2 separate regions of the Homo sapiens genome follow, and region 2 is linked to region 1. A link means that fine-mapping ties the variant in region 1 to the expression of a gene that starts in the linked region. Tissue or cell type: whole blood. Region 1 holds a variant in brackets; the other region holds the start of a gene. All regions are shown on one strand. Distances are between the middles of the regions.

The links. PIP is the estimated chance that this variant, and not a neighbour inherited with it, causes the effect.
Region 2: ITPRID2 starts here. The variant in region 1 is fine-mapped to the expression of ITPRID2 in whole blood (TOPMed, PIP 0.90).

The regions. Positions count from the first base shown.
Region 1 is chr2:181,640,425-181,648,537 of GRCh38, forward strand. The region is part of intron 1 of CERKL (CERK like autophagy regulator); the gene reads right to left. Among named protein-coding and RNA genes, the nearest start is that of CERKL, 13 kb to the right of the region's middle. The variant T/G (reference allele first, on the strand shown) is at 4,159.
Region 2 is chr2:181,887,939-181,896,051 of GRCh38, forward strand. It overlaps ITPRID2 (ITPR interacting domain containing 2), which reads left to right and starts at 3,792. Exons shown (of 18, transcript NM_001130445.3): 1 at 3,792-4,339; 2 at 4,677-4,722; 3 at 8,092-8,113. The coding sequence starts at 4,129. RefSeq lists silencers at 3,669-3,998, 4,289-4,428.

The DNA of each region.
Region 1 (8,113 bases):
GTCAGAAGTCTGTGTTTAGGATTTTAATGATGCTTGTAGACTTGTCAATGTCTGAAATGTAATCTAATAACCCAATCAAGTGGCAGGCTAGGTGGGATAACAAGTGATATGGTTATGATCAGTATTCTAGTGCTGAGATTACACAACTGCAATGAATTTATCTACTACATCCCTGACCATTTCAACAAGGACGGTCCATTTTCTCAAATTACAGAGGGTACAAAAACATCCAGTCTAGGCAATAGCATCTTCCTGCATACCCAATTGCTCTGTTCTCTATATCCATTGCCCTGGTTCTCTATTCCTTTAGCTTTGCCATGTTTGGATTTCTGCAATTCACTTCAGAACTTCCTACTTTGGACAACCCCATCTGGATTGCCCTCTCTGGTTTAATGACCTTGGTCCAGTCTATCTGATTCTCAATTTGTGTGTCCCTTGGCTTCAATGAACCCACTCCTAGGGGAATAGTTCTGTGCCAGTTCCAGCCCCAGAGGGCCCCATCCGGGATGCAGGAAAGAGAGAGAGGAAGGGTCCACAAAAGTAGATCAGTTTTAAAAAGTGTTTGCCTTCAGATGCTGCCATGTGGACATAGCATATTTAGGAATAACATTAGTCTCCAGACGTTCACAGGGTCAGAGTACACAGACTAAGAGAGTTACCATTTCAAATCTATGTACTATTCTTGTAGTAAGAAACAGATTGAATTTGCCAAATTTCAGTTCAAACAATGTATCACAATGACCATGAAAAATACAATGATTTCTATAGACAAGACTTCAACTTTACTAGTAACCAACTAATCTACACATAATAAAAATATTTTTTGTACACACAAAATATGTTAATATATGTGTGTATATATGTATATATGTGTATGCATATATATATATATATATATATATATATATATATATATATATACATATATATACACATATTTTTTTCCCTGAGATGGGGTCTTGCTATGTTGCCCAGGCTGGCCTCGAACTCCTGGGCTCAAGCAATCCTCCCATCTCAGCCTCCCAAAGTACTAGGATTACAGGTATGAGCTACCGTGGCCAGCCCACGAAATATGTTAAAGGACTCTGCCACTTTGAAATCTCTAAACTCAGTTGCTTTATCTTTAAATAGGCAGCTCAAATTGCATAACCATATCAGTTCTACATTCAGGTTCATTTTTCAAAAGCTATATCTTCCTTTCTATGTAGAAACAAAGACTAAAATGAAAACTTGGGAAGAAAGTAAACAAACATTTTCAACTCTCCATGTGTCAGAGCTGTGTTGTACAATGCAGTTGCCACTTGCTACATGCAGTTATTGAATTCAAATTAATAAAAATTAAATATAATTAAAAATTCAGTTTCTCAGTCACACTAGCCATGTTTCTGTTCAATAGCCACATGTAGCTGGTGGTAACTGTATTGAACACTTCAGATATAGTGCACTCCCATCATTTCAGGAAGTCTAACTGGACAGCCCTGCTTTAGAAAATTCACTCTACATTTGTTTTCTGTGAGACCCAACCTACCCTAACAAAAAGCTAAAACTTTTGAGGCTATTTTTATGATAAATTAGTAGACCTGTCAAAACATTTTAAAACTTTATAAGCAGATAGTATTTGCAGTTACTATGGAAATTTGAGTCTTTGCATACATCTTAAAAATTTCCTCAAATTTGACAGCTTAGAAACAGAACTAAATTTTTTTCTAAAGAGGCTTTTTTCTTAACGTGTAGACTGATGAATCAAAGCATCATGTTTTACTGAGTAATTAGTCCTTCAATAATTCACATGAGTAATAGGTCATATTGGGGTTTAACCCCTGCTTCCATTATTTCTGACCACACAGTCTACCAACAGATGTCTCACTTGGGGTGTACACAACAGAACACCCGGTATCCATTTCACGTACATCTGTTCCCAAACAGCTTAGACAGATTAATACTTAGAATATACTTTGCTCTACTAAGTCTCACGTAATCACCAACTCTTGTTTTGAAATTGTTTTTTCTCATTTTCATATTTTTGCACATTATCTTTTAAACTGCTAAGTGTCAAGTAAATACTTACATAAACTTAAAGCTCAAGAAAATCATTTTGACTCTCTTGTAACAATAAGAAACACTTTCCAGACCTTATTTTGAAGCTCAGCCTTCTCAGATTTTCTAGTCACTGCTCTAATTCAGCTGAGCTCTGAGTTGTGGCAGGAATACTCTTTTGAAAAAAACATAACATGAAATTTGTAACTTGAGATAGTAAGTATATGAAAAATAGAGTTATAAGCCATAATTATGATTCAAAGGCCTAGTTTTATTTTTTTTAAAATCTTTGAAACATACTATTTGAATGCTAATCAAGCATTGTATAAAATCTTTACTCAGAAATTTGATAGAGGATACAGAGAAACGAATGAAGAATGGATGAGCTAGTCCTTTTGTCCATCATGAAATAGCTGCTTAAAGCTAGCCTCAACCAATTCTTTTCCTCCAGAAAATGGTTTCTTCCTTTCCAATGACAATACCTACACCAAAGCGATTGCCCACCTCTAGTCACTGTGCCCTAAAGCTGAGTAAGGCGAGCAAAGGGCTTTGACTTATATTTCCCAGGTGGTTCCTCTAATTAGAAATTCATGAGGGCTCTGAAGTTCCTGATGTAAAATACAACACCCCTCCACACACACCAGACAGTGGGCCCCATTGACCATCAAACCTTACTGAGATTTATTTAATTTGACAAAATTCCCTAATGCCTAAAGGCCATAGAAATAGGTATTTTCTTTAAAATGAAAGTTCATAGGTGGTCAGAACTGATAGTACTTAGAGACAATATAATATAAGCCCTTCATTTTGCCAGTGAATAAACAGTAACTCAGACATGTTAAACAACCTGTCCAAAGTCTGTTATGCACCTTGCTATCTGTTGAGACAAGATCTTAGGGCCTTCAGCGGCCACTGCTGAAATCTTTCCTACACCACAGATGGGAGCAGATTATAGAGAGCTGGAGGAGGGAAGCTATAAAAGATCCTGTAGTGCTTTTCATACTTCAAGGTGTTATCCATTAGGAAATTGTGAAGTTAATTTCACAAATCATAATGAGCATTTGTTTGCAATGGAAACAGAGCATATCAGAGTGACTCTTAAATGGCAATGGTAAGAATTGTTTTGTGAAACTTTTGTTTTAGACAAATCACATATCAGCACAGAAATCTGTATAGTATCTGTCAATCCCTAAAGGGCCGTCATTTCAGAGGACTGAGGAAAAGTGGAGGAGACACATGTTTCCAACATGAGATAGCACTGTGAGCATTTGGCATCTCTGTCACAGAGATCCCTAAATTGATCACTCTTAAACATACTAATATATGAGCTTAACATTGCCTAATCTTACCCATTACTTACTCTCCCCATCAGCTTTTCCTTTACGGGAAATAATGACATTATATTTATTCACACAGGACAGTAAACAAATCTTTCTTTGGGGAGGCACAAAAAAATGCCTGACTCTTCTGCTTTAATCGAACATTTCAAATAAAAGCTTACCCCTTGTTAAACAGATGTCCCAAAAGTTTTTCCTTGGTTGAGATGTAAAACAATGCCAACAGGTGATCAGCGATGCTTTTGAAAATACTGAACTCTGAAAATATCTGATCCAGTATCAGCACAAGCTAAGGGCTAAATCATGAAATACGCAAATAAGTCTGTGGCATCTGTCCATGTCCCCTTTCTGAGGTGTATTCTTAATTTTTGACTTCTCACACCCAGTCCCTGGCACCATACTGGGGGTTGGCCCCACTGGGCACAGCACTTGACCTGCTCTGCCTTGGCAGGGTCCCATGACCCAGAGTGGTCTGACCTTTCACACTTGACTTCAAAAACAGTCACCTGATCCCTTCATCATTTCTTCAGGATTTTTCTCATAGGTCACAGCTAGCTTGATAATTACCTTATTTTAACATAAATAAACCCATGTATGATTCTATAATTAAAATGACCATAATTTAAGATTGTAATAGAAAGATCATCAGGCACCACTGTAGTCAATGAAAAAGATATTTTCTGAATTGATGATGCTCTTTCGTAAACACAGTTTATATTATAATGGCAGCATCCTAATCTATTTAAGCCCTGCTCAGTATTTTCTACTCTGCAGCTGAGCAACA[T/G]GGAACCTTCCTGCCATGAACCTCACATCAGAGAAGTGGATGAACCTTAACTCTTACGATAGAAATCCTGGAATAACGCAAAGTTGAAAAGAACCTCAAGGAGCTTAACATATAATGGGGGAAAAAAACAATCAAAGTTGCATTCAATGTCTCAGTATAGGAGATCCAATTATGCCTAAAGAGAAAACAACTGTAATGAATCTTCATTAATTTTAATGAATGTAAACATGAATCATTCAAATAAAAAAAAGCACAAAGGAAGCTAATTCCCAGCAGCTGGAACAGCAAGAAAGCTTGTGTAGAGAACTAGTTTTGTAATTCTTTCAATTACAGGATGGTAAAATATGAGGAAACTACTGAGAAATGAGGATGCAGAGATAGGCAGGAGCCAAGCATGGAAATCTTATGCCATGTTGAAGAGTGTGTCTCTCATCCTGTTTTCTACTTCAGTGGGCTTTAAACAAGACAGTCACATTCCTGCTAGGCAAAGAGGGAACCCAAACAGACAGACTCAGGATCATTTACCCACCACTCCAATCAAGGCACCCATACTTTTATGTGTTATATACTGGCGATTCATTTAAGAATTTTTTTTAAAAAAGAGTTTTGATGTTTAAAAAGGGGGAGAGGGGAATACTGCCTTTGTAGTTAATGAGGAGTTGGTATCAAGTATATAGGAATGTAGTCACCAAGTTATAATAGAATAGGCAAAACTAAAGTTCATGAGGCCAGTAAACCAGTAACAAATTCATTCATTCAATAAATATTATCTATATGCCAGGCACTCTTCAAGGTGCTGACAGTAAAGAAAAAACATATTCTGAATATCTTCCCTCTCCTCCATCTAGATTTAGTTTCTATCCTCCACCTGCCCTGTTCACTGGGAGGCCATACTGCATGGACTGCATCAAGTGCTCCCCTTGCCCTCTGGCTTAAAGTTGGCTTTGGACTGTGAAATGGGCCAGAAAAGAAGGAACTTGGGTAATTTAGGATTAGTGAGGATTAGTGAGGTAATCAGCCAAGCTGAGGCAAAGGCCACAGCTCCTGCCTAGTGGCCTCCTCTACATAGTCTCTCTGAATCCAGGTTCAGGCACCTGCTCTTTCACTATGCCCTTTTGGGCTTAAAAATGGTATCACCTGCCCAATGATTACTAGTCCCAAGAGTACTTCACTATCTCTATATCTACAGCTTTATAAATACTGACTTTTAAAAATTCTTCTCAAGTTACTCTAATATAAATGTGCCATTTTTTTTCCTATTAGGACAGTCACTAATATAACAGACAAATCCTTGCCATCTTGAAGTGGGGTGGTAATAGAAAGGACAGAGATCAGAAATTATATAGTATACAAGGAGATAAATGCCACTGAGGAATATAAGGCAATACAGGGAACCAGGAAGTATGTAGCAGATGGGAATTTTATACAGGTGACCAGAGAAAGCCTTACTAAGAAGCTAACATTTGTGCACAGGTTCAAAGGAGGTGAAGGAGTAGGTCAAGTGAGAGACTTTGAAGGCCTGAGCTAGGGTAGTGATTGGTCGGACAGAGAAGGATGGCAGATTGGAGAAATACCAAGTAAATAAAGTAGGCAGGATTGGTGGGTGTTTAGAAATAGTGAGTAAGGGACAGTGAGGCTAGAGTTACCTTCAGAATCCTGACTTAGATAACATTCCAGATAGCTTCCTAAATACTCCTTCACTTATTAAGCCAAAATATTCACTACTTACATATGCAATTGTATTATCTAACCCACATAAGCTACAAGCTAATTCTAGTTATCCTAGTTATTGTCCCATAACTTACACAAACCTAAATAGCAAAGTTAAACATTCTGACAGCTGATGCTGAATAATTAGTGAGTTCCATAACCATGATAGGGAACAAAAGATCAGAGTTAGTCTACGGAGCAAGGAAAGTTGCTTTTCTTGTAAACTTACTAAATATATGGCACTTCTGGAGGTAGATGATGGTAGATGAGAACCACAGTGTGCAATACTGACCAGAAAGCATGTAATGAGGAACAGCAGATCAGACCACAGTCCTTGGGACTCCACCATTTGGCAGGCAGATAGAATGAAGTTCCCATGAGAGACTGATAAACTAGGTGCTGGTGGTATTACAAAAACCAAGAGAGTTAAGTCAAAGTCAAATGAAGGAGAAATACAGAAAATAAGGACTGAAAATTTCCACTTCATTGAGCAATTAGAAGACTTCTGCTAATCTCTGCCTGAAGAGTTTCAGTAGAGAAAGAACAAAGCCAGGTCTCAGATGGTTGAAGAATAATTAAGAGGTGAACTAATGGAGATGGTCAGAGTAAGCCAATTTTTCTAGGAGATTATCAGAGCAAGTGAGAAAAAAATAAAAATAAAAAGCAAGGTAGCAGCTAAAGAGAAAAGCTTGTAGGATCAAGGCAGGGAACTGTTAGAATGGGAGAGTCTTGAACATATCTCTGCTTAAGTGAAAGAGCTGGTAGAGAATGAAGGCTAAAAACCAAAGAAAGAAAGTGTAACAGATGAAACAAATTTCTAGATGAAGCTGAAGAGATGGGATGGGTTTGCCTTCAATAGAGATGACTACATCTATTCTGTGGTCATGAATGGAAGCGAATGAAGGCTGAAGGTCACTAAAATGGAAAAGGTCTAGAAAGTCTGAAGCTGTAATAATGATTGCAATATGACCACCACCACTGGCTAGACTTTAGATAAAGAACACTGTGAGCCAGACAACAAAGTTTTAAATAAACATAGAAGAAAAGCTGGAAAATCATACTTTCTCTTCCCTGGGGAGCCCAAAAGACAGCTTGTCAGCCCTCCGAGCCTGCAAGTGTCCAGCCTGACAACTAGCATGACATGCCTGTCCCTAGCAAAACTATACCACCATCAAAAACTCCTGCAGCCTAGGCCACTGAGGAAATCAGACATTGCTGTGAAGATTACAGCTGACGAAACTACACAGAGACCATGGTACTGAATCCACCCCAAACCAAAGCCAATGTACCATACCCAACCAACACTCTAGGACCCATCTACAGGAAAAGTCTCTCCCTGTGAAAGCTACTGCATACAACTGGAAAATGTGACTATTCCACTAGATGTGCAGATGTCACAAGAAACATGAAAAAGCAAGGACACACGACACTGCCAAAGGAACACAGTGAGTCTCTAGTAACAGACCCCAAAGAAAAGGGTGTTTATAAAATGCCTGAAACAAAATTAAAAATAATGATCTTAAAAAAATTCAGCAGGCTACAAGAGAATACAAACAACCCAATGAAATCAGGAAAGTTATAAAATGAGAAATTAAAACAAGATCTATCATTTAAAACACAGAAATCTGAAGAATGCAGTGAATAAAAGACACAATCGAGAGCTTCAAGAATAGACCAGATCAAGCAGAAGAAAGAATTTCAAAATCTGAAAATAGGTTTTGTGAAATAACCCAAAGTTTAAAAAAAACTAAGCAAAGAAATTTTTGCATTATAGAACTGGCAGATGGAGAAAAGTTGAAGAAAGGCACAGAAAACCTATTTAATGAAATAATAGCTAAAAACTTCCCAAATATTGGGGGAGATATAGACATCCAGATGAAGGAACCACAAAGATTCCCAATTAGATTAAACCCAAAAAGATTCTCTCTGTGGCACATTATAGTCAAACTGTCAAAAGTTGAAGACAGAGAATTCTAAAATCTGCAAGAGAAAAGCATCAAGTTACATGTAAGGGAATCCTAATTAGACTATCAGTAGATTTCTCATCAGTAACATTAAATTACTGATGTATGCCAGGAGAGAAAGGGATAATTTATTCAAGATGCTAAAAGAACAAAAAAAAACGAGTCTCGGCCAAGGACAAAAGATACTATATCCAGCAAAACTATCCTGGAGGAGAATAAAGGCCTTCCCAGACAAACAAAAGCTGAGGGAATTCACTCCTACACCAGCCTTACAAGCAATG
Region 2 (8,113 bases), 250 kb after region 1:
ATGTTAATGGATACATTGAGGGGCCAAAAAGATTTACTGTTGAAATAAATTTTATAACTATTGGGTTTAAAAAATTAAAGTTTTAAAAAACAAGTTTTGAAGACGTCTCAAGTCTTTAACATTCATTGTGACTGGGCTGGGGTGGAGGAAGAGGAGGGGGTATAATATGCAGTGTTTTCCATTCTTATTTTATATAGAATTTTTTTCTCCAGGCAATACTATCAAAATATAAAATGCTACTTTGTTCATTTAACCTGATATTCTACTTAACCTTATACCTCTGAGGCCCCTTTTGTCTTAACAAAAGATGAGAATTTGAAGAAATAACTGCAACTCTACCACTCTCTAATCAGATTCTAAATAATTAAGATTTTGATGCACAAAATACAATTTTTGAGCATATAAATATTATTAAAGAAACAATACCATAACTACAACCAAAATGGCTTAGCCTACCCAATAGTAAATCTTGTTTTGCAATTTTAAATATCTAATTAAACCAAGAACAATGTTTCCCTTATGATTCATGCTTTCCCATATAAAACTGCCTGATTTAACCAAAGTATACGTTTTCTATCTTTGCCTGAACTTATGCCAATTTTAAAATACAGCTGCATAAGCATGATGATAGATGCCATTTGCTAATATGAGAATTATTCCCCCATATGAAATTGATTTATTTTTTGCTTTCTGCAATATAATCATTCTAATAGCTATACTGAGCACCTACATTATTTCTTGTGAGATTCACATCAATTTGGGAAGGTAGTTATCATGATTGCTATTTCAAAGATGAGAAAAGTCATGGCCTTGGGATATTAGCTGTCTTGCCTTATACCATACAGCTAGAAAAAGAGGGAAACATTTCAAACTTCAGTCTAACACCAAAGACCACGTTGCTTCCACTATGTCATGCTGGATGGAATTATCCACATTTAATATACATTTCTTTCTTTTTCCACCTTGCAAACATCATTGATTCAGACAATACTCTTTTTTTTTTTTTTTTTTGAGACAGCGTTTCACTCTTTTTGCCCAGGCTGGAGTGCAATGGCACAATCTCAGCTCACCGCAACCTCTGCCTCCTGGGTTCAAGCTATTCTCCTGCCTTAGCCTCCCAAGTTGGTGGAATTACAGGCATTCGCCACCATGCATGGCTAATTTTGTATTTTTAGTAGAGACAGGGTTTCTCCATGTTGGTCAGGCTGGTCTCAAACTCCTGACCTCAGGTGATCTGCCCCGCCTCAGCCTCCCAAAGTGCTGGGATTACAGGTGTGAGCCACCATGCCTGGCCCAGACAATACTCTTTATGTAGAGCTTCGCAATGTATATTTGCAGTTGGTGTACAAGATAGTACTTGTTTGGGAGAAAATCCTCGAAGAAGCAAACATGCAGACTTTCTTCATGTGTAGTATTCATTATCGAATAAATGAAATACCTTGGGCATTTTAAAACATCTGTAAAAGTTGAGAATACAATGAAAAAACCTTACTTTTCAAGGCAATAGCATACTACTTCAAGGATTTCCTTCTCTATTACTTCTATACCCTCAACATATTTCATTAAAAAATGCCATGTAGAAGAAAGCACACATTTGTGCTACCGGAAACTGAATAATGTATATATTCTACTTTGTTACCTGCTGGTAATTTTTCCCCCTTATTACTTGACTCTGGTTGTTTGATTTTTTTTTAAACTATGGTTAATTATTGCCTTTCACAAGAATTCTTTGTTGTTGTCATCTGAAAGTGTATTTAAACAACTGCAAACCTAAATAAAATATAAGCATTATAGAAATAACATGAAGCAAATTTTAAAATAATCAATTTAGGTGTCTCTTTGAAGAACACAGAAAACAGAAACTACCTCAAGAAGACCCATTATCCCTTGTGGGATCAGCATTTAAAAGTGTAAGGGGTGCAAGAATACTGAAGAATGTTCTATCATCTCTCACAATTTACAATCTGGCTAGTAAGCCAAACATACCTTCCAGGGCCAGTCATATTATTTACTCTACAATCCAGTCCCCAAATAAATGACATAGACATGCTGTTGTATATCAGATCCCTGTGGGAGGGGTGTGATCAGGAGTGGTGGAATGGTGGAGTCAAAAAGTTCTGGCTTAGCTAGATTTTGAAAGTCATGAAGGTAGTGGACAGAAAGAACAGGAATGAATTAATTAGCAAAGACAGAGTAGGCAACAGCACTTAGATATGATAGAATTGAAGCTGGGAGCAGCAGAGGAACAGGGTGGATACGTAAGAACCCTGGATAAAACTTTGAAGGCAGCATATTTTGTGGCACTTGACCAGCCCTTTCAATGCTTCTTCTTAGGTACCTTCTTTATTCATTCTCTTTTTCATCTTCCACACAGGCAGCGAGACTCTGACCTATTTTGGAGAGCCATTAAACTGTTAGCTGCATCCTACTACAGGACCCTTGAAGGCTGAGAAAGTCTTATAGGTTCAAAGAAAAGATTTTCTAGTAGTGAAATTTCAAGCCATAGAGATATTAATATCACTGTTCTAACTCCCCTGACATTTGGCAGTACATAGATGAGACTCAGGAGAATATTATGATGGTTCTGGAAAGCTAGTCTGGATTTTGGATTTGATCTTGGGGATATTAGTAAACCATTAGAAGATGTCTTGGAATTGTAAATCTAGAGCAATGCGCTAGAAAGGAGATAGGAAAGAATGAAGGCAGGAAAATCAGTGTGCTATTTTAGTAGTCTATGACTTATGTGTAAATGCCTGGACAAAAACTAGGCACTATTTCATCTCCAGAGCATTCTTCATTCCAAATTCTCCAAAAGTTATGGTTTCCTGTAGCTATCAATGACAATGCACTTAATTACCTTGTAATTCGAATGCTTCCATTAGGAATTTTACTATGCTCTGGATTTTAATTTCAAATGAAAAATAATTCCTTCCTTAAAATATTTTGTCTACGCAAAATATTCTTTTCAATCACGTTAAGATTTTAAAAAGTGTTCTAACTTGTTCTTCAGAGCATAGCCAAGTACAATAAAATATTGGAAGCCTTACTTATATGTATAGTTCAGATGTAACATTTAGGGGAACAATGCTGCTTGATAGGTCTGTCACATTGTGTCTGGTTTTGGATAGAATTTGAGTATTTTTGCTAATGAGAATTTAAACATAACAAAACGGAATGCCAAAGCTGGCTTTAAAAAGTTTTGAACCCTGACATCATTTGTTTCTTGTATCATGCTGTCTCACCAAAATCCAAGCAACTATCTCCACATTGTCCCAATTGTTTCCTCTATTCTCCCTCACCAAAGTCCAACTTCAATGTGAAATTTCCAGATTAAATATCCTTTCACAATTCATTTTCATTCATAACATAAACACGATAAATAACTTTAAGTATGAAAGTAGCACTCCAGGAAGCTTAGTCTTTTGCAGTTTTTACATTTTGGCAACACCAATCAAGCACCTCTTTCCGTCCTTACCCCAATTCCTTGGACACTAAAGAGTCTATATTCAGGCGACTCTTTCAAGTGTATGTTTCAGGGTGCCCAAGCAGACACTTGTTTTCTCGCGGGGGATGTTTTGTGAGACTTGGCCTCCCCACTTACGTTCTATTTTTAGGTGAGGGAGGAGGAGGAGGAGAGGAGGAAAGATTATTAACAAACTAATCTTGCCCATTCCGCGGGCAGTAGTCGGGGGCTGGCCTGCTCCGCGTCGCGCCGGGCGCGCCCCGCCCTACCGCGCCCCGCGCGGCCCCGGCCGGAAGGGGGCGTGGGCCGCCGCCGAGGGAAGGCGCGCAGACGCGCAGCGGCCGGCCTGCTCCGGGCGCGTCAGGCAGGGGGTGGGGAGCAGGGGCCGGGCGGGCGCTCGGCTCCCAGCCGCGCTCCCTCGGGCCACTAGCGCTCCCGCGCGCGCCCGGCCGCCTTCATGTGAAGCGCCGGCCCTCCGCCCCTTCCCTCCCCTTCCTTCCCTCCCTCCCTCCCTGTCCCCTCCTCCTCCTCCTCCTCCTCCGGCGCCCGCTTCAGCTCCCCGGGGCCCCCTGCCCGGCCGGGCGCTGACAGCAAGGGCGGGGGTCCCTGCCGCCGCCTTGTCTCGCGCAGGGTCCGGCTGGGGTAGCGGAGCCCCCAGTGCGGCCATGGACCGGCCCCTGTCGTCGTCGGCGGAGGCGGAGGAGGAACTGGAGTGGCAAGTGGCGAGTCGCAGGAGGAAGGCCTGGGCCAAGTGCCGCAGCTCCTGGCAAGCGTCGGAGACGGAGGATCTGTCCACAGAAGCGACGACGCAGGACGAGGAGGAGGACGAGGAGGAGGACCTCCCCGGCGCGCAGCTGCCGGCAGCGGGGGGAAGAGGTCGGTGCTCCCGGCCGGGCTCCGGGGGGAGGCTGGTGGGCTGGGGAGAGTCTCGTGCGCCCTGGGCGCCTGCCACGAGTTCTGGGAGAGCCTCGGGCACGGTAGGCCGAGGGGAGAGGGGACACTTCCGACCTTCAAACGCGCGCGCTGAACGAGGCGCCCCCAGCGTCAACACAGACAACTGGGTGCCATCCGATTTCCCTGCCAAGGGACACTGAGACGTGTCGCTTAGGCTGCATTTGCCGTGGTAGATTTTCCTACTTGGGAGGGTCCAGGGTGACTCCGCCGTCGTAGTGCTCCTGGGTGGTAACGTGCTGTCCCCTCTCTCTACCCCCAGGAAACGTGCCCAACGAGAAGATCGCGATATGGCTCAAGGACTGCCGGTGAGTGCTCCCTGGTCCGCCCGCGTCCCGGGGGAGATCCGTGCGGACGGGACGCCGGAGCAGAGCCACTCGGGCCGCGTCCCTGTGGGTCCCGCGACCGTTGTAAGCTACAAACCGGAAAGTGAGCCGGCGGATAGCTTCCTCCTCTAAGCGATTAGAAATGGAAGTGCTGTGACCGCTGATTATTTGGTGACCGTGTTGACTTTACAGTTAGGACTTGAGCTACTCACGCATCGTGTTAGCATCAGAGATCAGAAATCCAGAACAGATAATCATGCCATATTTGTTCTGTTTTTATTTGAAAGAATTCTCACATCTCGAACAGGATATTTTGTTTTGCTTTAGTTTTGGCATCTGTACAACTGGCACGGAATCATTTTCCTTTCAAATGTGTTTTAGACGAGTTTAATTTACCTAACTACACTAAATGGGCTTTAATTTTGTTTCTGTTTGGGGAGCTATTAAAACTAGCTAACTTTGTACTTATAGTTTACTTCTTGAACATGGAATTGTCAGATGGCACTGGAATTCTCAGGGAATAGAACTTTTAAAAGCATTCAGACTGCATAAATCTGTTTAATTACATGCTTTGGCAACTGGTACAAAAATGTTTGATAAAATACAGAGGAGATGAATCATGTTGCACGTAAATCTGACTACAGCAAAATGTACTTGTTTCTTATTCCACTTTGCTAGTTGTAAAATCAGGAATGTAGCCTTTAAACTTTTGTTGGTGTTTGCTTTCGAGCATATTTTTGCTTTCTCAATTTAGATTTTCTTAATATTTTGTTCAAATATTAGAGTTAGGGTAGTTTGTTTTGTTTTGTTGTGGAAAGTGATTCATATGCCAGTTTGCCTCCTCTAAAGACAGACAAGATATTGGCTACCATGATATTAATGCCTTGTTTTGATGAATCGACTGGAACCTTATTGAACACTCTTTATTACAGAACTCGTACCCTTTATTGGAAGTGTCATAGACCCTTCTGAAATATGATGACATATATGGAATAACTTCTGTTTAAAGATGCACAGAGGCAAATACACTGCTTGAAGTCCTTGGACCCCAGATTTACAATCTAGCTGTAAATCAATCTCCCAGTTTTCAGATAAGCCTTAGATATTAGATACTTCACTCAAAGTATGGATCAAGAAATTGTATTAATGTGCTATTGGTTCATTTAATTGTTAAATACTAAAATAGTCTATAATGTAAAAGCTTGAAATTTTGAATGTACATGTTCAAGACCTTTTGGGTGAGATCTGATAAAACTAGTATCTTTCAGGTTTCCACTTAGAAATGTGTTTGAGAAGTTGTTTTGTAACTTTTACTTAAGTCCTTTAAAGCCTCCAATCTGACTCTTTATTTAAATACAGTCCTAAGTACAGTATTGGCTTACTTTAGGTTTCTTAAAATAGGCTTAGCATTACAAATACATTTATAATGTTTTATTGTTTAAATTCAAGTGCATATTCAAAAGAATTTTAAAAATTAAGAACAAGAGAAGAATCACACTATAGTTTAATGACATATAGGATTTAAGATTGTATAAGAGATCCTATCAATTAGACAGTAAATAAGTGCATCTTTTTTGAGACAAATGCAGTAGGCAAATGTTGACATTCACCAGGGCACAGTCAATCCCTGACAATTTCAGAAGTTTTGTTGCCAATACTGATTTATGTGGGCAGATTCTGTAGTCTGCTGCTCCTTCTCTCATGGATTACCTTCTTGTTCCTACAGTTGCACCTATTCTACACAAGAGTGGCATTCATTTGTATCCAGGAAAGCTAGAACAAGTAGTCTTTTAATCTTGGCTATATTATCACAGATTCGACTTAGGATATGTTGCATCTGTATTTTTGTTTTAAATAACAACTCAAGTTCCTTCTCAGAGTTGGGCATCTATGTATTTTGTTTATTATGTACAAATGACCTGAAGACAGCATTTTACCCACTTGATAAGTTCTCAAATAGTCTTTGTTTCTTAGTGCCGTCCATATCCTGAATAAAGATACCGTGTTTTCTTTCCTTAAAGGGAGTCTTTATTTTGATAACCATTTGTGGGGGGACTAAGTAAAAACTGCTTGAATTAACATTTAAGAAATGGTAGAGATTTTGATAGAATTTGGAAGGGAGCAACTATAAAAGTAAGATATTTGTTTTCGAAGGAGGATTCCTGTTACTCTGCTTATCTACCATTTTCTGTTAGTGCATAGACCAGTAGAGACATCTGTGGACAGAGTAATACAATGTTTACATCCAAGAAAGTAGCCATCAGGGAAGGATGACTTTTTAAAGACATACATTAGAATTTTATTAAAATATATGCAAAAAATAGATTAAAGCTTTTATTAATATATTTATGGTAATTGCTTGTGATTCTTTTACGTTTCAAAAGCACTAAGTTTTAAAGAGCTGCCATTGTTAGTATACTTGTAGAAAGTTTTAACCTTTAATTGGCATTTCAGTAACATTTCCTTGAAACTGATATTTTCATGATTGATCCCATGTCTCGTGAATTTTTAACAGCTATAAATTGTTACTGAAGAAAGGTGTGCATCACAAAACAGACCCTCCAATATAAAACAATGTGTTTCTTACTATAACTTGGTTTCAGAGAATTAAAAGTGTTTATTTTTGTATTTGAAAAAAAGATATTTCTCTCATCTGTATTTGAACTACAAGAATGAAAAAATTTTAGCAATGGCTAATCTTAATGTTGATTCTCAAGTCAACTTTTTAGTAATTTTCAAAGTTAAATGAAGAATATATATATTTTTTAGCTTAAAAACAAAGCGAATCTCAAGCTTCTACATTTACATAAAAAGATAGTTGTTGGGGCAAGGGGGAGGCATTAGGTGATGCTCTGAAATGCTAGTGATAGATTAACAGATGAGGTTTAAGGAAACTATTGGGCCTCATTTCCAACTACTCTTCACTTTTTAATTTTATTAAGGTTAAGTTACCTATGACTGAAGATTTGTTTTCTTCTAATTCTGTTTTCTTTTTTGATGGAAGGGGTTGAGAAGAACAGACATTTTCTTAATGCTTATTGTCAGTCATTCTCTCTTTTTTGCAAAGAAAAATGCCAATTCAAATCATTTGTCATTGCCATTTTTGCCCCTAATTGTTAGCACATCAGACATGATTAAATCATTCCTGCTGAACTGACCTGATGGCAGGTATTTGCTTAGTTAGTGAATATTACTTATGTAATCTACTTGCATTCCTTGTGTGTTTTTGGAGGAGAGTTTAACTGTGATTAGAAGCTTATTGAGCTGTAACTCTTTAAGTAAGGCTGTGTAATGACAACTTTCCAAATAGCCTTTCACAAGACTAAGGCTTATACGTTTATATGGTTTCAGTACACCTTTGGGAGCCTCACTG